5 linked regions of the Homo sapiens genome follow. The protein of the gene in region 2 purifies or fractionates together with the protein of the main gene of each other region. This does not show direct contact. Each region holds a gene or a part of one and is shown on either strand. Other genes may lie near its edges.

Region 1 (4,894 bases), on a different chromosome or scaffold from region 2:
TAGTAAGACCTTGAAGGAGAAGGATTTGAGATCAGGAGTTTAAGAAAAAATGTTAATCTAGGAAGAGAGGATAATTTCTGTGTTTGGCCAGTTGCAATGGCTCACGCCTGTAATCCCAGCGTTTTGGGAGGCCGAGCTGGGCAGATCACTTGAGCTCAGGAGTTTGAGAAGAGCCTGGGCAACATGGTGAAGCCCCGTCTCTACTGAAAATACAAAAATTGGCTGGGCGTGGTGGCAGGTGCCCACTGTAATTTCAGCCACTCAGGAGACTGAGGCAGGAGAATTGCTTGAACCTGGAAAGTGGAGGATATGGTGAGCCTAGATCGCGCCACTCTACTCCAGCCTGGGAGACTCCATCTCAAAAAAAAAAGAAAACAAGATGCTGAAATGAAGTAATTACCACAGTCAATGTGATCCTATAACTTTGTTTTGTTTTAGAGATGGGGTCTCCCTCTGTCACCCAGGCTGGAGTGCAGTGGTGCATCATAGCTTTCTGCAGCCTCCACCTCCTGGGCTCAGGTGGTCCTCTTGCCTCAGTGTTCCGAGTAGTTAGGACTGACTGCAGGTGCATGCTGCTATGCCTGGCTAACTTTAAAATTTTTTTGTAGAGGCGGGGTCTTGCTATGTTGCCTAGGCTGGTCTCCAACTCCTGATCTCAATCAGTCCTCCTGCCTACCTTCCCAGAGCGCTGGGATTACAGGTGTGAGCCATCGCACCTAGCCAATCTCATAACATTTTATGACTAGCAAACTTAGTAGTTCTGATTCAGGCATAAATCAGTTGGTGGGGTTATACAAGGTTGGGTGAGTTTTTCTAGATTTCTAAGAGACCATGTTGAAATACTTGGCTCTGTCTCAGTAAGGGATAGAGAGAAGCAAAGGTGTGGGTAAAGGTTATGAGCAGACATGTAAAGGGGGCAAATTAAAGTGTTTAGGGAAGGTGAAACAGTTCCAAATCATAATATAGATCCCAAGCCTCACCAAGAAGTGAAGGAGAGGGTAATTGTGCGATAGTTCTCAGGACTGAGACCTCAAGGTGTAAGACGAATCTTTATTGTGGGTGGTCCTCTTTGAGAAAAAGAACAAAAAAGAAAAATGTGAAATGGGTGCTAAATTTCAGAGCAGAATATACATATATGTGTATGTGTGTGTGTATATATATATATATTTTTATGTAGCAAATTCCAGTTTACAAAGGGCTTTTATGTGTTTTGCATCATTACAACAGTTCTGTGATGATGTGGATGTGGTGGATATTGTAATTCCACATCACAGAGGATAAAATTGAGGCACACCATAAGGTAGCTGACCAGAGATCATGCAGTATATGGTAGAATGGCAACTTGAGGCCAGTTCTTAGGTGTGTTTGTTGTCCTTATTCAGAATGGAACAATGTGGTTTATTGTACAAAAATTTAAAAATGAATGTCGAAAAGTAGAAATTATTACCCAAATCTCACCCTCTGTGGTTGTTTGCTATGTGATCTTCCAGACTCACATATACATGTAGATAATTTTTTTTTTTTTTTTTTGAGACGGAGTCTTGCTCTGTCGCCCTGGCTGGAGTGCAGTGGCGCAATCTCGGCTCACTGCAGGCTCTGCCTCCTGGGTTCACGCCATTCTCCTGCCTCAGCCTCCCAAGTAGCTGGGACTACAGGCGCCCACCATCACCTCCAGCTAATTTTTTGTATTTTTAGTAGAGACGGGGTTTCACCATGTTAGCCAGGATGGTCTCGATCTCCTGACCTCATGATCCGCCTGCCTGGGCCTCCCAAAGTGCTGGGATTACAGGAGTGAGCCACTGTGGCCGTCCTCACATGTAGATACTTTTTTAACTTTTTGCTTTTAACCACTTAAGATATTGTGAACTCATTTCCAAATTAACATATATTTGCTTTTAACAGCTACATTTCCACTGGAGTTACGTACCATTTGTAATCTATTCCTGGAAATTTAGATGGTTACAACTGTTTTTTATTTTATTTATTTATTTATTTAGAGACGGAGTCTGACTCTGTCACCCAGGCTGGAGCGCAGTGGTGTGATCTTGGCTCACTGCAACTTCCACCTCCGGGGTTCAAGTGATTCTCCTGCCTCACCCTTCCGAGTAGCTGGGACTACGGGCGCACACCACCACGCCTGGCTAATTTTTGTATTTTTAGTAGAGACGGGGTTTCACCATGTTGGCCAGGATGGTATTGATCTCTTGACTTCATGATCTGCCGGCCTTAGCCTCCCAAAGTGCTGGGATTACAGGTGTGAGCCACCACGCCTGGCCTCAACTGTTTTTTATTATAAATAATGCTGTAGGCCGGGCGCGGTGGCTCACTTATGTAATCCCAGCACTTTGGGAGACTGAGGCGGGTGGATCCCGAGATCAGGAGATCGAGACCATTCTGGCTAACAAGGTGAAACCCCGTCTCTACTAAAAATACAAAAAATTAGCCGGGTGTGGTGGTGGGTGCCTGTAGTCCCAGCTACTTGGGAGGCTGAGGCAGGAGAATGGCGTGAACCTGGGAGGCGAAGCTTGCAGTGAGCAGAGATCGCACCACTGCCCTCCAGGCTGGGCGACAGAGCGAGACTCCGTCTCAAAAAATAATAATAAATAAATAAATAAATAAAGCTGTGTACAGCCTGGCCAACACTTTGGGAGGCCGAGGCAGGCAGATCACAAGGTCAGGAGTTCGAGACCAGCCTGACCAACATGGTGAAACCCCATCTCTACTAAAAATACAAAAGTTAGCCGGGCATGGTGGCACATGCCTGTAATCTCAGCTATTCAGCAGGCGGAGGCAGGAGAATCGCTTGAACCCACGAGGCGGAGGTTGCAGTGAGCCAAGATCGCGCCACTGCACTCCAGCTTGGGTGACAGGGCGAGACTCTGTCTCAAAAAAAAAAAGAAGAAAAAATCCTTTATTCTGGTTTTCCCGTAGCTTCCACAGATCCAAAAGGGTCAGGTTTATTTCCAGTAGCCAAATATTCTGCCATCTGGACTGAGATATCTCCTAGGTTGAGGTTATTATAGAGGTAGTAACCTGATTCTTTCTTCCTTTTCTCCTTCCCCTTTCCTCCTTTGCCTCCCTCCTCTTTTCTTCCTCTGTATTTATTTTATCATTCCTTCTTCCTTTCTTATTTCTAGGCCATATAGGCCAGCCAGGGAAAGGTTAGTAAGGGGTGACATTGATCCCTATGACCTGAGGAATATTCTTCGACCTTGAGACATGCCGATTATGCTCTTCTTTTCCTAGGATGCTCACAACTGTATTCCTGAGCTGGACAGTGAGACAGCCATGTTTTCTGTCTACGATGGACATGGAGGTAACTTTAACAGATCATATTGGTAACATTCTAGGACCCCAATTCCAGACGTTCCAGGGCAAGAACAGGTCCCTTTGTTCATTTACTTTCCAGGGTCTGGCCCTCATTATCATTTCCTGCGTGGTGCTGTTTTTCTGTATTCTGTCATTCTTTTTTCCCAGTAGGTACTGTATTGGTTTATAATCTCACCAGGACTTGTTTTAATCCAAAGAGCCTCTATCTTTTTTTATTTTTATTTTTTAAAATTTTTAGGCTGGGCACGCGGTAGGTCACACCTGTAATCCCGGCACAGTGGATCACGAGGTCAGGAGTTCGAGACCAGCCTGACCAATATGGTGAAACCCCATCTCTACTAAAAATACAAAAATTAGCTGGGCGTAGTGGTGGGCGCCTGTGGTCCCAGCTGCTCGGAAGGCTGAGGCAGGAGAATCGCTTGAACCTGGGAGGTGGAGGTTGCAGTGAGCCAAGACCATGCCACTGCACTCCAGCCTGGGCAACAGAGCAAGACTCTTGTCTTAAAAAACAAAAAAGTGTACCCAGTTGAGCTGATTCTTTATCTTTTTTTCACTGGAGAACTAAGTATACAGGTGAGAAAAGACGAGATATTTATACCCGAGAGAATTGATGGTGAAATCCATTTTTTTGGATCAGAACTTCCCCAAACAGTGTCCTTCAAATAGGGTTCAGGGGTGCTAAGATATTTATCCCCTCAACCCTTGGGGTTCACTCCAGTATGGCATATAAATATTGTATCACTTTCTATGTGTGGGGAGCAGTGCTCCAGGTGACCTTCCTTCCTTTCCTTCTAGGGGAGGAAGTTGCCTTGTACTGTGCCAAATATCTTCCTGATATCATCAAAGATCAGAAGGCCTACAAGGAAGGCAAGCTACAGAAGGTCTGTCTGCTTACACCGCCCATTCCTCACTTGTGTAGGCTTTTCCCTTGTTCTCTAGCCCTTGGGCTTTTCCTTTCTTTTTGTCCTCTAGCTGCTGCTGCTTATTTACTCTTGAAGAATTCTGTTCCTAAAACGAGCTTATTGGCCGCCTTTTAGACTTGCCTTATTATTCCTAGGCCTCTGAGCTGTTTTTATCTGTGAGTGTCTCTTAGTGTGGTGGCTCACACTCTTAATTTGTATTCCATCCTTGTGCTCAGGATTGTATATAGGGAGTTCATTTTGTACTAGTCTTAGACTATTTTGCTTATATTCAGGCTTTAGAAGATGCCTTCTTGGCTATTGACGCCAAATTGACCACTGAAGAAGTCATTAAAGAGCTGGCACAGATTGCAGGGCGACCCACTGAGGATGAAGATGAAAAAGAAAAAGTAGCTGATGAAGATGATGGTGAGTGTGGCATCCCTTGTTTGAGGGGAAATCAGCATTTTAAGAAATATTCTTTAATATTACTTATCAATTCTAAGATAGGATGGCTTTCTAGGGACCTGGGGAGTCCTTATGTTAAAGAAACCTATGATGTTCTCCTGCATTGTATGTGGTTATGAAAAGGAGGGAGAGAATTATCTTCGTTGAGTGGCATCTGAGCTGTAAGCATTGTATATACATTATCTTTTGTCATTGTG
Region 2 (4,894 bases):
AGGGCCGAGCATGGTGGCTCACACCTGTAATCCCTGCACTTTGGGAGGCGAAGGTGGGCAGGTCACCTGAGGTCAGAAGTTCAAGACCAGCCTGGCCAACATGGCAAAACCCCGTCTCTAGTAAAAATATAAAATTAGCCAAGTGTGGTGGTGCGCGCCTATAATCCCAGCTCCTGCAGAGGCTGAGGCAGAAGAATCACTTGAACCTGGGAGGCAGAGGTTGCAGTGAGCCAAGACGGCACCACTGCACTCCAGCCTGGGCTTCAAGAGCAAAACTCTGTCTAAAAAATAAAAATTAAAAAATGTATACTCTTTAATATTTTCAGTTATATAGTTCAGCTTTGTTAAGTATATTGACATTTTTAGCAACATATCTTTAGAACTTTTATTTTTGTAAAAGAAATATGCTATACACATGAATCCACTACTCATTTTTCCCATTGTCTGGCCCTTTACAAACATCATTCTATTTTCTGTTTTTAAGGATGTAACTATTTTACATATTCCATGTAAGTAGATTCATACAGTATTTTTGTGTGTGTGGCTGGCTTACTAATTTAGCATGTTGTCTTCAAAATTTGTCTTTATAATAGATATTAGAAGATTTCCTGCTTTTAAAAAGCTGATTAATATTCCCTTTTTTATATTTTAAATTATATTTATCGATTAATTTGGTAAGGAAAGTTTAAATTGCTTTTACCTATTGGCTTTTGTGGATAATGCTTCAATATGGTGTACAAATAACTCACTTGACCATATATTCAAGAGTTTATATCTGTGCTGCATTGTGTTTCATTACTTTGGTGTTCTACATTTATACCAGTACCAAAGTGCTTTGATTGATGTAGTTTTGTTTTGTGTTTGGAAATTGTTAAGCATAATGCTTCCAATATTTTTCTTCTTTTTAAAGATTGTCAGGCTTTTCATGTTACCTTGAGATCTTATGTAATTTTGTGGGTTTTTTTTTTCTTTTTGGAAAAGTAAAATTTATTTTATTATTTATTTATTTATTTATTTATTTTTGAGATGGAGTCTCGCTCTGTCACCCAGGCTGGAGTGCAGTGGCGCGATCTCGGCTCACTGCAAGCTCTGCCTCCCTGGTTCACACCATTCTTCTGCCGACGCCTCCAGAGTAGCTGGGGCTATAGTTGCTCGCCACCGCGCCTGGCTAATTTTTTTTTTTCTAGTAGAGACGGGGTTTCACCATGTTAGCCAGGATGGTCTCGATCTCCTGATCTCATGATCTGCCCGCCTCGGCCTCCCAAAGTGCTGGGATTACAGGCGTGAACCACTGTGCCCGGCCAGGAAAAGTAAAATTGAAAATTGAAAAGGGTGTGTTGAATGTGTGGGTCACTTTAAGCAGCATGGACATCTTCACAATGTTATGTCTTCCAACCCTTGAAAAAGAGCATGCTCAAAAGTGTGTTGTTGGTTGGGTGCGGTGGCTCATGCCTGTCATCCCAGCACTTTGGGAGGCCGAGGTGGGCACATCATAAGGTAAGGAGATCGAGACCATCCTGGCCAACATGGTGAAACCTTGTCTCTACTAAAATACAAAAAATTAGCTGGGCGTGGTGGTGCATGTCTGTAGTCCCAGCTACTCAGGAGAGGAGGCTGAGGCAGGGGAATCACATGAACCCAGGAGGTGGAGGTTGCAGTGAGCCGAGATCGTGCCACTGCACTCCAGCCTGGTGACAGAGCAATACTCCATCTTAAAAAAAAAAAAAAAAAAAAGGTGTGTTGTTTAATTTTTATGTTTTTTGAATTTTTCAGCTTTTCTTCTGTTACTGATTTCTAGTTTCATTCCATTTGGACCATAAATAATTGTCCGTAAAATTTCAATTAAAAAAATTGTTAAGACTTGTTTTGTGGTGTCACAGGTCATCCATCTAGGAAAATGTTTCATGAGCTATTGAAAAGAATGTGTATTCTGCTGTCTGTATACATTTGTTAGGTGTAATTATTTTATAGTACATTCAAGTTTTTTGTTCCCTCATTGATATTCTGTCTTGCTTTATGTATTAGTGAAAGTGGGATGTTGATGTTTCCTTCCATTATTATATTGCTGTCTATTTTTGCTTCAGTTCCGTCAATGTTTGCTTTATGTGTTTGGGAAAACTGTCTTGTATTTATAGGTTCTCAGTGAATGAACCCTCTTATTATAATTGAATGTCCTACTTTGTCTCTTGTGAATTTTGACTTAAAGTAAATTATATGAAATATGACCATTTTCAACTTAATAAATTGTTGCCTCTTCTCTCATTTGGTTAACACTTGCATAAAATGTATTTTTCATCCTGCCATTTTGTCTTTTTTTTTTATTAGATCTAAAGTGAATCTCTTGAAGACATGATATAGTTAGATCTTGATGTAGATCTTGATATATGTCATGATATAGTTAGATTTTTTTTTTCATTTTGGAAGATACTTTTGCTGGATATAGTATTCTTGCTTAGACTTTTTTTTTTTCCAGTGCTTTAACTATGTCATCCTGTTCCCTTCTTGCCTGAAAGATTTATGTTCTTAAATTTACTCGTAATCTTGCAGAAGCATGCATATAAATAACACGTCTCTTTCTTCTTCCTGAATTCCAGATTCTCTTCTTGTCTGCGACTTTTAAAACATTGCTTGTGTTATGTCTTGTTAGAAATCTCTTTGTGTTATCTTAGTTGAAGTTTGCTGAGCTTCTTGATTTTCTTATATTTTTTACTAATGTTGAAGTGCATATTAGTCTTTTTTTGTAGTTCTACTACACAATTTTTATTTCTTTCTGTGCTTTTTATCTTTTTGTTGGTTTCATTTTTGTTATTTCATTTTGTTTTTTTAATTTCCATTTTACTCATTGAGCATCATTGAGATGTAATTTTGATTTTCTAGGGTAATTTATTTTTTTCTTTTAAAAAATAGATCAAGACTTTAATTCAAATTGTCTCACATAATTTTTACATCTCCTTTTTTTAATAATTGATTTCTGGATATTCTTTTTTTTCTTTGAGCCATATTATCTTGATGTTTTGTTTATGTTGTAATGTTGCAATTTGTATAATAAAAAGCCACATGTCAAAATCTGTATTAAGTGACTTTTGTCTGAGGGAATATGATACCAATTTTTTAGGCTAGGGAGTCTTGGAGTCTCTCAAGCCTGTTCTATGGATGTTTTCTCTGAGCTTGTGTGTTTTTTAGTTAAAAAATGTTCGCCTTTTTTTTTTTTTTTTTTTTTTTTGAGTGTTACTCTTGTTGCCCAGACTGGAGTGCAATGTTACAAGCTTGGCTCATTGCAACCTCCACCTCCTGAGTTCAAGCGATTCTCCTTTCTTCTGCCTCAGCCTCCCAAGTAGCTGGGATTACAGGCACCTGCCACCACGCCCTGCTAATTTTTGTATTTTTAGTTGAGACAAGGTTTCACCATGTTGGCCTGTCTGGTCTTGAACATCTGACCTCAGGTGGTCCGCCTGCCTCAGCCTCCCAAAGTGCTGGGATTACAGGTGTGAGCCACCACTCCTGGCCATTCCCTATGTTTCTTATTGAGATCCCTTAGTCACTTGCTATACCCATTGTCTGTCTATGATACTGAAGTCTTTCTTCTCTTGTAACAGTCATTTACCTTTGGTCTCAGCTGTCCGAAACTGTCAGTGCATACCACCTTTCCTTTCAACACTGTCATGGAATATAGAAATTAGTCTTTGGTAAGGTCTCAATAAGCCAGAAGCATGGACACATGTGCCACTATTTTATTTATTTTTGGAGGGGGTAGACAGGAGTTTGGAGTCTATAGTTAGAGTCATCATAGGATGAAGAATGGCTGTGGTGGGTAAATATGAAATACTTTTATTACACTTCTATGTGGTTCTTGGCGTTTTGCTCACTTGGTGTGCCGCAAATGCTTAACTGGTTCTTAGACTTCTCACAAAGGCATTTTGGTCAGTATATTTCTGTTAGGTTTATATGTCTATAAGAATATAGAGCCTGTGGTATTTTATTATCGTTTTATTAATTGCTTTGTATAATTATATATTTGTGAAGTATATTCACCTGAGTCTAATGAGGGAGAATTTTATTTTTTTTCTCCAGCTGGTTCTTTTCATTTTACTGCAGAGATATTGCCGGATCATGACATAAAAGATTCATTTCAAAAAGTGATTCTGAGAAAATATGGAAGCTGTGACCTTAATAATTTACATTTAAAGAAAGACTACCAAAGTGTGGGTAATTGCAAGGGGCAGAAAAGCAGTTATAATGGCCTTCATCAATGTTTGTCAGCTACCCATAGCAAAACCTGTCAATGTAATAAATGTGGCAGAGGTTTTCAGTTGTGCTCAATCTTCACTGAACATAAAGACATTTTTAGCAGAGAGAAATGCCACAAATGTGAAGAATGTGGCAAAGACTGTAGGTTGTTCTCAGATTTTACTAGACATAAGAAAATTCATACTGTAGAGAGATGCTACAAATGTGAAGAATGTGGCAAAGCGTTTAAAAAGTTTTCAAACCTTACTGAACATAAGAGAGTTCATACTGGAGAGAAACCTTACAAATGTGAAGGATGTGGCAAAACTTTTACCTGCTCCTCAACCCTTGTTAAACACAAGAGAAATCATACTGGAGACAGACCCTACAAATGTGAAGAATGTGGCAAAGCCTTTAAGTGCTTCTCAGACCTTACTAATCATAAGAGAATTCATACTGGAGAGAAACCCTACAAATGTGAAGAATGTAACAAAGCCTATAGGTGGTTCTCAGACCTTGCTAAACATAAGATAATTCATACTGGAGACAAACCCTACACATGTAATGAATGTGGAAAAGCTTTTAAGTGGTTCTCGGCCCTTAGTAAACATAAGAGAATTCATACTGGAGAGAAACCCTACATCTGTGAAGAATGTGGCAAAGCCTT
Region 3 (4,894 bases), on a different chromosome or scaffold from region 2:
ATCATAAAGGCTGTCAACAAGTACATTATTAGTATTCCTCAAACTTGAATAGCCTATACCCATTTGTTACGTTTTTTTTTTTTTCTCATTTTAGAATATCTCTGAAGATGTGATTTTTTCTGTGATGTGTTATAAAGATGAGGATGAAGAGCTGTGGCAAGAAGATCCATATGAGTATATAAGGATGAAATTTGGTAATTGAGATGGTTTTATTTCTCATCAGTTCCTGGATATGTAAAGTAATATAACTAAATTTATATTTTTAAGCAAATGTTATTACTTTATTAAATCTCCCAGGTTCTGTTTTGCATGACATAATCTGAAACTTTGAGAGTTTGATGTTATTTTGTTGAACTAGAGAACTGGAGATTGTCGGATGTGGGAGATGAAAAGCCACCTCATTCATCTCTCTTACGGGTGCTCAAGTTGAGCCATCTGTTACTTATGCTGTTGCGATGCTGATCTGCAGGGACCATCCGTTTTTGTGCCTTTTGGGAGACTCATTTATAGATTGGGTTGTTCTCATGTGGGAAATACTTTGGATTTCTGCATATTTTAGGGGTACCCCAATTTGGTTTGCTTGCTTGTCTGAGAGACTAAGTGTTCCACAAGGGAAATAAATTTCGTATGGGGGCCCTACTGTGTGTGGTCCAATTCTTTGGGTGTCCTTTTAACTTGGATCTTCCTGGAAACTGTTGAATTGTGTAGGTGGCCTGATTTATTCCCTTTTATTCCCAGTTTGTATTAATTGCTTCATGGAACACTCAAGCACTTAACATAGCAAAATATTAATTTGCATACCTATCTCCCACAACTTAGAAGCTTTCTCAGGACAGGAATTTTACCTTATTTGCTTAATTTTGCATTTTCTGTCTCTTCTACACCTCTGCATTCCTCCACTAGTGCTTGGCCTCCAGTATGCCTTCAATACATGTTGAAAGAAATGATTGCTAAATCTAGCGCTGCGTGCTGAAAGTGCTGTAATGAAGCAGTGCTTTCCCCTTAGTTGAGCCAGGTGTGTCTAGCTACGTAAGCTAAACCTACTGGTACAGATGCTAGTTTTTTGGGCTGTGTTTTTACAGAGCTTTGTGTTTATATTATTTGATTCAGTAAGTGAGGATCCTGTTTTCTCTTGGAGACAAAGTATCAGAAAAGCAAATCAATGAGAAACATTTATCATCTGCTTGATTTGTTATTTTTCTTTTGAAAATCATTATTCATATGTGTAACTTATTATTTCCCCTTTCTTATGCCTTTGTTTTTCTAGTTTGCTTTGAGTGATTAGCCAACCATTCTTCTCTCTCTCTCTCTCTCTCTTTTTTTTGTTCCAGTGACTCTCCCACCTCAGCCTCCAAGTAGTTGGGGCCACAGGCATGTGCCACCACACCTGGCTAATTATTTTTTGCAGAGACAGGGTCTCCCTGTATTTCCCAGGCTGGTTTCGAACTCCTGGCTTAAGTGATCCTCTTGCCTTGCAAGGCATTCTTTTAGTGTTTACTTCTTTCATAATACCTATGTGTTTTTGTGATGTACAGAGTATTTGTTTAGCTTTCAGAAAGTTACCATTATTTATATATTCTTCATATCTGATAAGATAGGTATACATACCCTAGTTTTTAGAAAATAAGAACTCTATGTCTGTTGATTAACAGTGGGAATTTACATTTTATTGTTTAAAAGCGGATATGGGTAACTCAAGACTGACTAGCTGAAGTGAGTTTTCTTTAATCGTTTCCTTCTGTAGACTGGAATGCAGTGGCTTTTATTTGATATGTGTATTTTACTTTTGGGTAACCATAGGGAAGAACAATTACTGCATTTTCTTTTTATATGTTTGGCACTTGCAATTATTTACGTGAAACAAAGCATTCCTATCTAAATGTATTGACTGATTAATAATAATGTTTTAGTTTATTCTTTTTATCTACTCTTTAACCAACATCTCCTCACTTCCCCCAATAATGTTTTTTGATTTGGTAAGAACTAACAAGAGCTCAGGCTTTGATGTTAAGATAGCGTGGGTGTGAATGCTGGTTTGGTCACTTACCTGCTGTGTGACTGTGGACAGGTTACTTAACCTCTCTAAAATTCAGTGCTTTCAGCTGTCAAACGGGTGATGATAATAGTGCTGGGAGGATTAAATGGGATAATACACATGAACTAACTGCTTAGCATAGAATACAAGATGCTTCTAAAACTGTAGCATACTGCTTGGCACAGAGTAAGTACAGTACTCCAAAAATGTTCTTATTATGTTTGTATTTTATATTTTGAGGTAGACTTAGATTTGGTTTTATCTTTTGTATTTAAACAAGGACTTATCAGATACCTCTCAAGACTTCAGTTTCTTATGTAAAACTGCCTATTCTGAAACTTGTGAAAATGTTCATGGTATTAAGTGATATGTTAAGTTTTAGATAGGTATATATTCAACAAAACCTGCTGAACTTACGTATCGACAGAGCCAGGCATGGTCCTAGCAGTCCTTCAAGGCTTTTATACTTGCTGTTTCACCTGCTTGGAGTACTTTATCCATGGATTGCTTTCTCCCTCATTTCATTCAATTTCTGCTTAAATGTTACCTTAACAGAGTTGGAGAGGCTTTTGCTAACACCCTATTTAAACTAGCACCCCATACTCTGTCACTCTGTCTCTTTACCCTATTTTACATTTGTTCTTAGCCTGACTTATTATGTGTGTATATATGTATAATGTGTTTCTTTGTTTCACGACATAAGCTCCGTGAGAACCTTTTTGTTTGATCTTTGTATCCCCGGGGTCTAGAATGGTACCTGGCACATAGTAAGAGCTGAGTGAATTTTTGTTGTTTTTTGATAGAAATAAAGCACTTTTTCTGTTCTCAGTGAAACAGATGTGTAAATGCATTGTTTTCTTCAATATAATAGTTTGAAAGGACAACCTGTAGAGTTTGAGGAACATTGTTTTGTGCAGGAGACAGCAATGTTGTGGTGCCACTGTATATCCTTACCTTTTTAGTACTGTCAAGCAGTGTCATATGTGGATGGTTTTATTTTTTTGGTTTGGAATAGCGGTCAGTCAGGTTTAAAATCTAGAATAAGTAATTATATTTTCACTAACATGGTTTTAACCTTTTAAAATCTTAGATATTTTTGAAGATTATGCTTCTCCCACCACAGCAGCCCAGACTCTCTTATATACTGCTGCAAAGAAAAGAAAAGAGGTATTTCATTTTTCTTTTTAAATCCAAAACTGAAAGGTGGCCTGTGTTGAGTTGATACTCTAGTATATCCCTAGTATTTGAGAAATTATGTTGTTATTCGTTATAATTTGTCACCTTAAGGATTTTTTTTTTCCTCTCCTGGTGAGGGGAAAGGGGGTATCATGGTTATTTCGTTTTCTTAATAAATTATACTTTTCTTATTGAGCTTATAGTTGCTTGATAAAACATAATAAAATGGCTTTATTTTTAAAAATTTGTGCATCATAGTTAATACTATAGTAAGACAATGAAAGTTCATGTAGACTAAATGGATTCTTCTGTTTCTTTAGGTGTTGCCAAAAATGATGGCATTCTGTTATCAAATCCTGACAGACCCGAACTTTGACCCTAGGAAGAAAGATGGAGCCCTGCATGTGATTGGTTCCCTAGCTGAGATTTTACTGAAGGTTAAGATAATCAAAATTTAATTTACTTAATAACATTGTAAAGTACAGGCAAATGAGAGAATATGAAAGTTATGGCTAATTTAAAGCTGGTGACTACCTCTGGATAATTGAGTTCACAACTATCCTCCTTTCTGTCATCTATTTCTTTAATTAAAAAGAAAATTTGACTGTTTAAAGTTTTCAGTATGAAACTATTGATATGTGAAAGGGATACAAAGTATCTTATGTCTACAAAATCAATCAATATCAAACTGATATAAGGTAATATTTGTCTTGTTTTAAAACATGCAATATATAGGTCAAATAATTTTACAAAATTAGAAGTATATTAAATGCAAGTCATAGTAAACACACTTGATTAGGAAGTGATTCTTACGTATGAAAAAGAAATTGATAAGTTGAAATTTGTTTCCTAATAGAAGAGTTTATTCAAGGACCAAATGGAGCTGTTTCTACAAAATCATGTATTTCCATTATTATTGTCTAACCTGGGATATCTTCGAGCTAGAGTAAGTTTTTCATATTTCTGTTATGTATCTTAAATCTTCATAAGATAATTATTCAAATAAATGTTTTTTGGATAAATTGACCTTTTGCCACATATTGAGATGAAATAGAGTCAATTAGAATGTCTGCCTATGGTCACATCAGCTGAATAAAGGACAGACTATTAAAGAAAAAGATTTATAGGCTGGGCGCAGTGGCTCATGCCTGTAATCCCAGCACTTTGGGAGGCTGAGGTGGGCGGATCACTTGAGATCGGGAGTTTGAGACCAGCCTGGCCAACATGGTGAAACCCTGTCTCTACAAAAATACAAAAAATTAGCTGGGCTTCATGGCAGGCGCCTGTTATCCCAGCTACTAGGGAGGCTGAGCCAGGAGAATTGCTTGAACCCGGGAGGCGGAGGTTGCGGTGAGCTGAGATCGTGCCACTGCACTCCAGCCTGGACAACAGTGAGACCCTGTCTCAAAAAAAAAGGAAAATATTTATGGATTTTATTTCCTGCTGGTTTTATTTCATTTGTCACCCTAGCCTCACTTGCTGCATATGTAAAACATGAAATGAGAAAGGTGATTTTATAGCAGTGATACAATTTAAATTCACAAATGGATTTATTTTGTGTATAAAATGACATGAAATTCCAGATTGGCTAAGAACTTGAATTTGATTTTCAGTATATTAGGTAGATTTGCCTTAGTAAAATGGAGAGATTAATAATCCATGTGAAATTGTGCTCTATGTGTA
Region 4 (4,894 bases), on a different chromosome or scaffold from region 2:
TTATTAAAGTGTTTATAGTATAGACAGTTTCGAAACAAAATAGCCCTTCTGCCTCAGAGTCTTTGCACTTAACTCCTTGGAACTCCTTTCACATAGTTATCCCCCTAACTTGTTCTCTCATTTCCTTCCATCCCTGTTCAAATGTCTCCTTATCACTGAGGAGTTCCTTGACCATCATACTCCCTATCTCCTTTCACTTGTTTTTCTCTATAGCACTGATTTGTCATACATATTTGGCTTACTTTTAAAATTAATTTTATTTGGCCAGGCACGGTGGCTCACGCCTGTAATCCCAGCATTTTGTGAGGCTGAGGCGGACTGATCACTTGAGGTTGGGAGTTTGAGACCAGCCTGACCAACATGGAGAAACCCCATCTCTACTAAGAATACAAAATTAGCTGGGCGCGGTGGCGCATGCTTGTAATCCCAGCTACTCAGGAGGCTGAGGCAGAAGAATCGCTTGAACCTGGGAGGCGGAGGTTGCGGTGAGCTGAGATCGTGCCACTGCACTCCAGCCTGGGCAACAGAGTGAGACTCCATCTCAAAAAAATTAATTAATTAATTAAATTTAAAACATTGGCTGGGCATGGTGGCTCATGCCTGGAATTCCAGCACTTTGGGAGTCCGAGGCGGGCGGATCACCTGAGGTTGGGAGTTCGAGACCAGCCTGACCAACATGGAGAAACCCCGTCTCTACTAAAAATACAAAATTAGCTGGGCGTGGTGGCGCATGCCTGTAATCCCAGCTACTAGGGAGGCTGAGGCAGGAGAATCGCTTGAACCCGGGAGGTGGAGGTTGCGGTGAGCCGAGATCGTACCATTGCACTCCAGCCTGAGCAACAAGAGCGAAACTGCGTCTCAAAAAATAAAAATAAAAATAAATAAATAAATAAATTTTTTTTTTTTTGAGACGGAGTCTTGCTCTTGTTGCCCAGGCTGGAGTGCAGTGGCGCAATATGAGCCCACCGCAACTTCTGCCTCCTGGGTTCAAGCAATTCTCCTGCCTCAGCCTCCCAAGTAGCTGGGATTACAGGCGTTTGCCACCACACCTGGCTAATTCTGTATTTTTAGCAGAGATGGGGTTTTACCATGTTGGCCAGGCTGGTCTCCAACTCCTGACCTTGTGATCCGCCCACCTCGGCCTCCCAAAGTGCTGGGATTACAGGAATGAGCCACCATGCCCAGCCTATTTATTTATATTTATTTTTTGAGACAGGGTCTTGCTCCATCACCCAGGCTGGAGTGCAGTGGCACCATCATGGCTCACTGCAGCCTCTCCCTCTCGGGCTCAAGCAACACTCCCACTTCAGCCTCCCAGGTAGCTGAGACTACGGGGATGTGCCACTATGCCCAATTAATTTTTGTATTTTTTGTAGAGACAAGGTTTCACCGTGTTGCCCAGGCTTATTTTTAATTTTTTCAGAGCTAAGGCCTTGCTATGTTACCCAGGCTGGAGTGCAGTGGGCTCCACTGCACTACATAGTACACTACAGCCTAGAACTCTTGGCCTCAAGCAGCGTCCTCCCATCTGAGCCTCCCAGGTGGCTGGGACTGCAGACACGTGCTACCACGCCTGGCCTAATTTTACTTAACTTTTCTTCTCCCCACTATAATTTTAAGTTTCTTGAGGTCATGAATTGTTATTTTTTGTTATTGTTATTCCTTGATTTCCCAGTAATAGGCTTTATGACTGACTTCCTGTTATAATATTAATAAATAACAGTATAGGCTTTAGCTCTTTTATTTATTTTTTAAAATTTATTATTATTATTATTAGTATTTTTGTGGCAGGTTCTCACTCGGTTGCCCAGGCTAGAGTGCGGTGGCATGATCTTGGCTCACTGTAGCCTCCAATCCCAGGTTCAAGCGATTCTCAGTCCTCAGCCTCTTGAGTAACTGAGACTACAGGTGCCACCACATCTGGCCAATTTTTGTATTTTTAGTAGAGACGGGGTTTCGCCACATTGCCCAGGCTGGTCTCGAACTCCTGACCTTAAGTGATCCACTCACCTTGGCCTCCCAAAGTGCTGAGATTACAGGCATGAGCCACCACACCAGCCGGTGTTTTTAAATATAATGCCAGGAAGATTTTTATTAAATACTCATTCCGAAGGATAATTCCCAGTCTGGTTCATGTAACAGCAAATGTCTGTGTGCTAGGCACTGAGCTAAGTAGTTAGATGCAGAGAAATTTATGATCACTGCCTTTCTAGAGCTCCATAATCACCACGTCACTGGCCCATACAATACATGTGGTCAGTACTATAATAAAGCTACATGTAAGTTTTGGATGACGAAACTATTAGATCTGATTTTGGCTAAGGTGGATATGATCTCCGCATCAATAGTCTTTCCCCTGTTATATTCGCAGTCAAGAAAAATGCTGTAAGTGGAATTAGAGGGTTTACCCAGGAGACATTTAAACTCTTAGTTCCTAAGCTCAATATGGTATATAATGGTTATATATGTATATACACCTTTTTTTTTTTTTGAGTGGAGTTTCGCTCTTTTTGCCCAGGCTAGAGTGCATTGGTGCCATCCGGCTCACTGCAACCTCCATCTCCCGGGTTCAGGCAATTCTGCCTCAGCCTCCCGAGTAGCTGGGATTAAAGGAATGCACCACCACACACGGCTAATTTTTGTGTTTTTAGTAGAGACGGGGTTTCACCATGTTGGCCAGCCTGGTCTTGAACTCCTCACTGCAGGTGATTGCCCACCTCAGCCTCCCAAAGTCTTGGGATTACAGGCGTGAGCCACTGCGCCTGGCCTAATTTTATATTTTTAGTAGAGACGGGGTTTCGCCATGTTGGCCAGGCTGGTCTCGAACTCCTGACCTCAGGTGATCCGTCCGTCTTGGCCTCCCAAAGTGCTGGGATTACAGGCCTGAGCCACCGTGCCCGGCCTAATGGTTTTATATGTACAGGCAGCAGTGCTACTTTCTCACTTGCTTTATATGAAAAAGTGATCTTGCTTTTGGTAAGTTTCTTGATATTTTGTGTGTGTGTGTGTTTTTTTTTTTTTAACTCACACTACCCTGGATCACTTTTGGGATTGTCACAAAAGGTTAACTATTACTGCTGTATGTGATATACCTTACTTATAAATGGTTCATTTGATTCCATTTTATTAAAAGTATTTAATGAAAATCTTAGGTCTGGAAAAGTGTAAAATAATGGCATATTTGTAAGATAATTTGGAATGTTTAGAAATTAAGCAAAATATTTTAGGAAGACCAGAGTAGCCTGTAGTTTAGATAACATTCCTTCACCAGGAATATTTTGAAGTACTGTTCTGAATTTGGGAGAAGGAAAGTCCCTGGATACTTCGGCTGTTAGATAGCAAGTTATTCAATGATATAGCTTGTTAAAGATCTGAAAGAGTTTGGGCGCAGTGGCTCACGCCTGTAATCCCAGCACTTTGGGAGGTAAAAGCAGGAAGAGGATCGCTCGTCCAGGAGTTTGAGACCAGCCTGGGCAACATACAAAAAAAATTTTTTTTTTTAGCCAGAGCCTCGCTCTGTCACCCAGGCTGGAATGCAGTGGCGCAGTCTTGGTTCACTGCAACCTCTGCCTTCTGGGTTCAAGCAATTCTCCTGCCTCAGCCTCCCGAGTAGCTGGGACTGCAGGCGCCCGCCACCACTCCTGGCTAATTTTTGTATTTTTGGTAGAGATGGGGTTTCACCTTGTTGGCCAGGCTGGTCTTGAACTCCTGACCTCAGGTGATCCACCCGCCTCTGCCTCCCAAAGTGTTGGGATTACAGGCATGAATCACAGCGCCCGGCTGCTAAATGATTTCTAATAAAAAAGTTTTTTTTTAAAGTTCCTAGTTGGAGGTCAGATGCGGTGGCTCACGCCTGTAATCCAGCACTTTGGGAGGCCGAGGTGGGCGGATCACAAGGTCGGGAGTTCGAGACAAGCCTGATCAACATAGTGAAACCCCGTCTCTACTGAAAATATGAAAAATTAGCCGGGTGTGGTGGTGGGTGCCTGTAATCCCAGCTACTTGGGAGACTGAGGCAGGAGAATCACTTGAACCCGGGAGGCGGAGGTGCAGTGAGCCAAGATCACGTCATTGCATTCCAGCCCGGGCAACAGTGCAAGACTCTGCCTCAAAAAAAGAAAAATAAAATAAAAGTTCTGGCCGGGCATGGTGGCTCACGCCTGTAATCCCAGCACTTTGGGAGGCTGAGGTGGGTGGATCATGAGGTCAGGAGATCGAGACCATCCTGGCTAACATGGTGAAACCCCATTTCTACTAAAAATACAGAAAATTAGCTGGGCATGGTGGTGGGTGCCTGTAGTTCCACCTACTCAGGAGGCTGAGGCAGAATGGCATGAACCTGGGAGGCAGAGCTTGCGGTGAGCAGAGATCACACCACTGCACTCCAGCCTGGGCGACAGCAAGACTCCATCTTAAAAAATAAAATAACATAAAACTTCCTAGTTGGAAAGCATAAAAATAATATTTTAAAATTATTTTTATTGTTATTATTTTTTGAGACAGGGTTTCACACTGTTACCCAGGCTGGAGTGCAGTAGTATGAACATGGCTCACGGCAGCCTTGACTCTCCTGGGATTAAGCTATCCTCCTGCCTTAGCCTCCCAACTAGCTGGGACTACAGGCGTGCACCACCACACCTGCCTAAGTTTTTTATTTTTTGTAGAGACGAGGTCTGTCTTTGTTGCCCAGCCTTGACTCCCAAGTGCTAGAATTACAGGTGCGAGTCACTGCACTTGGCTTATTACTGTTTTTTTAACAAAGGCAGAGGGACGCAGTGAAGAGCCTTAGCCTTGTCCTGAGTCTACGACTATAATGACTTAACCTCACTATGCCTTATATTTCATGTAGCCAAGGTAGATGTCATATTTGCCTTTGTCAAATTCTTTTTTTTTT
Region 5 (4,894 bases), on a different chromosome or scaffold from region 2:
CTTTTTTTTTTTTTTTCTTTTTGAGATGGAGTCTTGCCCCATCGCCCAGGCTGGGATGTAGTGCTGCAATCTCAGCTCACTGCAGCCTCCACCTCCAGAGTTAAAGTGATTCTTGTGCCTCAGCCTCCTGAGTAGCTGGGATTACAGGCACCCGCCACCACACCCAGCTAATTTTTGTATTCTTAGTAGAGATGGGTTTCACCATGTTGGCCAGGCTGGTCTTGAACTCCTGACCTCAGATGATCTGCCCGCCTTGGCCTCTCAAAGTGCTGGGATTACAGGCATGAGTCACCGTACCCAGCCAAATGGTTTTTTTGTTTTTTGTTTTTTGTTGTTTTTTGAGATGGAGTCTCACTCAGTCACCCAGGCTGGAGTGCAGTGGCGCAATCTCGGCTTACTGCAAGCTCTGCCTCCCGGGTTCACACCATTCTCCTGCCTCAGCCTCCCGAGTAGCTGGGACTACAGGCGCTCACCACCACGCCTGGCTAATTTTTTGTATTTTTAGTAGAGATGGGGTTTCACCATATTAGCCAGGATGATCTCGAGCTCCTGACCTCGTGATCCGCCCGCCTTGGCCTCCCAAAATGCTGGGATTACAGGCATGAGCCACCGCACCCAGCCGCCAAATGGCTTTTTTAAATCGTAAATTACTTTTCTTGATTGAAGTTTTATGCAAAAATTGATCAGGATGATACCTACATGCCAGGTTTTTATATTTGAAACACATAACAAACTGAGCCTTAAAAATTCTGACTAAGCAGACTAGTATATAGGTAAAGAAATATCTAGAAAATGGAGTATTGTGCACAAAGTTTAATTTGGAAATAAATTTGTAAAATAAACTAAAATTAATTTTAGAAACCCTAACTTTGTTTGCTTTGACAATACAATGGAAATTATCAAGTTATAGTTAGAATAGGGGGAGACAAATAATGGTTGTCCTGAAAAGAACCCAAACTCAGACATTAGAGAGTCTTGAGGAGGTTCCATAGTGAATGTTAGGAGCATTATTAGCCTGTGAATCTGATTGGCTGGATTTGAATCCCAGCTCTGGCCACTAGCTGTGTAAGCTGAGATAGTCCCATTGTTGTAAGCCTGAGTGAAAGTGGGGATAATAAATGCAATGCCTGCCACATAAAGTTATGACGTCAAATAGTATACATTTGGTAAAGGCTCACAATTCTTATTATAGTTATTACTATTATTGTTTTACCATTATCATTATCATCATCATTGTTTCTCAAGGCAAAATCTAGCCTCCACCTCTTTATCTGTGTGACCTTGGTCTTTGCTTCTCCAAGATTCAGATTTTCCAGAGCACTGTTACCTCCATCCAGGGTCATTGTGAGGATTAAATGAGAAGTTTATACAGCACCTAGGTCAATGCTTTGTTGATAGTAACTGCTTTTACAGGTTAGCGCAACTAATAAGTCACTAACTCCTCAGCATTATAACATAGGCTTAATAAGTTTAACACCAAGTTCTTTCCTTGGGTGTAAGTTTAGCCTTAAAAGACTTCTAAAGATTTTCCAAAGTTAATGTTCTGTAATTAGCATATATGTAATCAAATAGGACTTTTATGTATATCTCATTCTTTCTTTATAACTTAAATATATATTATCTGGTTACAATTTAACACCCAGTTCTTTCCTTTGGTGTAAGGTTAGCCTTAGAAGACTTTTAAAGATTTTCCAAAGTTAATGTTCTATAATTAGCATATATGTAATCTTATATATTGAACTTTTATGTATATCTATTTCTTTCTTTATAACAAGTATATTTTACCATATCTGTATGTTATTACAAAGTAAATTATCATTATTTTTCAATTAAGAAGAAAACTAAGACTGTAGAACATTGAATGATTTGACCTCCTCAGGTACCTTTTGGTAGGTCTTCTGACTGCAAATGCTGGGTTCCCTCTGTTAAATCATACTACTTCCTGAGAAGAAATAAAAGATAAAGTGGGAAAATTCTGCATCTTAGGCAAGCTAAAGAAAAGTGGTTTAAAAATTATTGCCACTTCAAAAATAACAATGGCAGAATAGAAGGTATCTATTTTTATCACCTCTTGGGATCTTTTTGTGGGGCCAAGGGGAAAGCAGAAAGATACTAAAAGAGATGTTCATGTCCCTTTTTATTCATTTTAATTATTAAAGGGAACAGTGGCTTTGTGATTAATGACTGCTGTTCAGTCTATTTTATATCTTACAAGGATCTGACAGTTTTGTTTTACATTTTATAGCTGCAGCTTATCTTCTGGTGTCCCTTATACCAAGCAATTCATTCCGTCAGATGTTCCGGTCAACAAGGTCTTTGCACATCCCAACCCGTGACCTTCCACTCAGTCCAGACACAACAGTAGTCCTACATCAGGTCTACAACGTGCTCCTTGGTTTGCTCTCAAGAGCCAAACTTTATGTTGATGCTGCTGTTCATGGCACTACAAAGCTAGTGCCCTATTTTAGCTTTATGACTTACTGTTTAATTTCCAAAACTGAGAAGCTGATGTTTTCCACATATTTCATGGATTTGTGGAACCTTTTCCAGCCTAAACTTTCTGAGCCAGCAATAGCTACAAATCACAATAAACAGGCTTTGCTTTCATTTTGGTACAATGTCTGTGCTGACTGTCCAGAGAATATCCGCCTTATTGTTCAGAACCCAGTGGTAACCAAGAACATTGCCTTCAATTACATCCTTGCTGACCATGATGATCAGGATGTGGTGCTTTTTAACCGTGGGATGCTGCCAGCGTACTATGGCATTCTGAGGCTCTGCTGTGAGCAGTCTCCTGCATTCACACGACAACTGGCTTCTCACCAGAACATCCAGTGGGCCTTTAAGAATCTTACACCACATGCCAGCCAATACCCTGGAGTGAGTAAAATTGATACTCTTTTATCTGTATCCTCAAATAGATTGGAAATACCTGTTTTTCCCCTGGTGGGAAGTGGTGGCAGAATATAGAATAGTCTCACCATTCTTTCTTAAGAACTTAATGTGTATTTGTTTTCTTAAATACATATATAAAATGCTGTGTTGTTATAAAATTGATAACTGTGTAGATAACTTTTCTTAGGGTGAAGTTAAAGTTGCATATCCAGTAAAACTTACCTGTTTTTTAATTTGTGGTTTTGTAAATGTATTCTTCATGTGTGCCTAATGAAAAAAGCCAGCTTCATGGTACAGTTTTAAGGAATTGAGTACTTTGCTATTTAAAAATCAGATACTTAGCAAAATCTACATGCTGTGGTAAACTGTGAGCTAGACAATTTTATATCTAAAACTAGTAGTATTCCGCAGTATTTTTTCTCAAGCTGCATCCAAACAAATGAAATGCTTAAGAGATCAATCGAGATACATATATATGCAGTCTAAATTGGGTCCCTTTTACTCTGCACACTTACTTGTAGGTTTTATATTAAGTTTCCTCCCCTCGATGTAAAGCTGTCAAACCTGGTTAATAACTTTTCACTGTTGCCTCTTATTCTCTGTTGTAAACTGTACTTTAAAGACAGACCGTCCTTTATAGACGGTCTTTTTTTTTCTAGATGGTGTAATGAGTTGTATAGAATCTCACACCTGGGAAGAATAACCTAATTTCTAGTCAGAGAAAATTAGAATCCCAGGCCGGCATAGTGGCTCACACCTGTAATTTCAGCACTTTGGAGGCAGAGGCGGATCACTCGAGCCCAGCAGTTCAAGACCAGCCTGGGCAACATGGCAAAACTCCATCTCTACAAAAAATACAAAATTAGCTGGGAGTAGTGGTGTGCACCTATAGTCGCAGCTGCTTGGGAGGCTGAGGTGGGAGGATCGCTTGAGCCCAGGAGGTTGAGGCTGCATTGAGACATTGTACTGCACCCTGGGCAACAAAGCAAGACTCTGTCTCAAAAGAAAAAATCAGAATCCCTACAATGCAGGAAAGAGAGTGAGTGTACAAGTACCAAGAAATTGAAAACCAATGCCATAAGAATACAAAATATCAATCTTTCTGACTTCAAAGGGGTCGGGATAGGATTTATTAAGTTTCAGTAAATTTGTCTCTATCATATTCACATAAATAATATTTGATCTAGTTACTAGATGTGATGTCCAGAATTAAATATACTTTGACAAGTACTAGATGAGTTAGAATTTATCCCTCCATGTTATTTATTGCCCTTGACATCAGTGAAATGTAATGTCTTTTATTGTAGAATGTCCTTATCTATTAGAAATTTTCATGAAAATGGTACTTAAGTCAGTTTTTTGCTTTGAAAAATAAGAAGCTGGGGGTTTCAGTTCATTGACAAGTATGTGTTAGAAGAGCAGTCCTCTCCTGACATGTGCATATGAGTCTATAAAATCACAGCTAGTGATTTTACTAAAATATTTGTTTTTACTTTTTATTCATCAGGAAATTGAACTGAGCATCATTCTAGAAAAGCATTTTAAATGTTGGAACAAAGGTTTACCTCATATACACTATTAATTTAAGGGTTATTTAGGCATTTAAAATCTTTGTGACAAAGTAATGATTTCTCATTAATTAAAGAAAAAGTGGATAGGAGATGGTGTGGCATGCCTCTGGGTTTACATTTGAAGTTACAAAAGTAGTGCTTTAAGCAGTAATAAGACTAAAAATGAATTGTATTCACTTACAGTTTTTACTCTTTCTAAACTTGTATTTTAAGATTTGTTGAGTTCTTTTAGTGTTTATTATTATTGTTATTATTTGTATTTTAGTAGAGACAGAGTTTCATCATGTTGCCCTGGCTGGTCTCGAACTCCTGAGTTCAGGCAATCTGCCCGCCTCTGCCTCCCAAAGTGCTAGGCATCAGCCACTGCGCCCAGCCAAAATTTTTTAAATAGAATTTGTTACTGATTTTATAACTTTCTGAATGGAAGT

Evidence for each region.
Region 1: the proteins of ZNF736 (region 2) and PPM1G purify together in Homo sapiens (co-immunoprecipitation; one large-scale study listed by IntAct). This does not show direct contact.
Region 3: the proteins of ZNF736 (region 2) and IPO8 purify together in Homo sapiens (co-immunoprecipitation; one large-scale study listed by IntAct). This does not show direct contact.
Region 4: the proteins of ZNF736 (region 2) and IPO7 purify together in Homo sapiens (co-immunoprecipitation; one large-scale study listed by IntAct). This does not show direct contact.
Region 5: the proteins of ZNF736 (region 2) and USP34 purify together in Homo sapiens (co-immunoprecipitation; one large-scale study listed by IntAct). This does not show direct contact.

Annotation. Positions count from the first base shown.
Region 1 is NC_000002.12:27,385,511-27,390,404, reverse strand, and holds part of PPM1G (protein phosphatase 1G), read left to right. Parts: intron 1-3,246; coding exon 3,247-3,316; intron 3,317-4,125; coding exon 4,126-4,211; intron 4,212-4,525; coding exon 4,526-4,658; intron 4,659-4,894.
Region 2 is NC_000007.14:64,344,019-64,348,912, forward strand, and holds part of ZNF736 (zinc finger protein 736), read left to right. Parts: intron 1-4,071; coding exon 4,072-4,894. UniProt on the Homo sapiens protein: May be involved in transcriptional regulation.
Region 3 is NC_000012.12:30,664,483-30,669,376, reverse strand, and holds part of IPO8 (importin-8), read left to right. Parts: intron 1-94; coding exon 95-194; intron 195-3,125; coding exon 3,126-3,202; intron 3,203-3,531; coding exon 3,532-3,648; intron 3,649-4,067; coding exon 4,068-4,157; intron 4,158-4,894. UniProt on the Homo sapiens protein: Involved in nuclear protein import, either by acting as autonomous nuclear transport receptor or as an adapter-like protein in association with the importin-beta subunit KPNB1.
Region 4 is NC_000011.10:9,387,288-9,392,181, forward strand, and holds part of IPO7 (importin-7), read left to right. Parts: intron 1-4,894. UniProt on the Homo sapiens protein: Functions in nuclear protein import, either by acting as autonomous nuclear transport receptor or as an adapter-like protein in association with the importin-beta subunit KPNB1.
Region 5 is NC_000002.12:61,212,046-61,216,939, reverse strand, and holds part of USP34 (ubiquitin carboxyl-terminal hydrolase 34), read left to right. Parts: intron 1-2,245; coding exon 2,246-2,880; intron 2,881-4,894. UniProt on the Homo sapiens protein: Ubiquitin hydrolase that can remove conjugated ubiquitin from AXIN1 and AXIN2, thereby acting as a regulator of Wnt signaling pathway.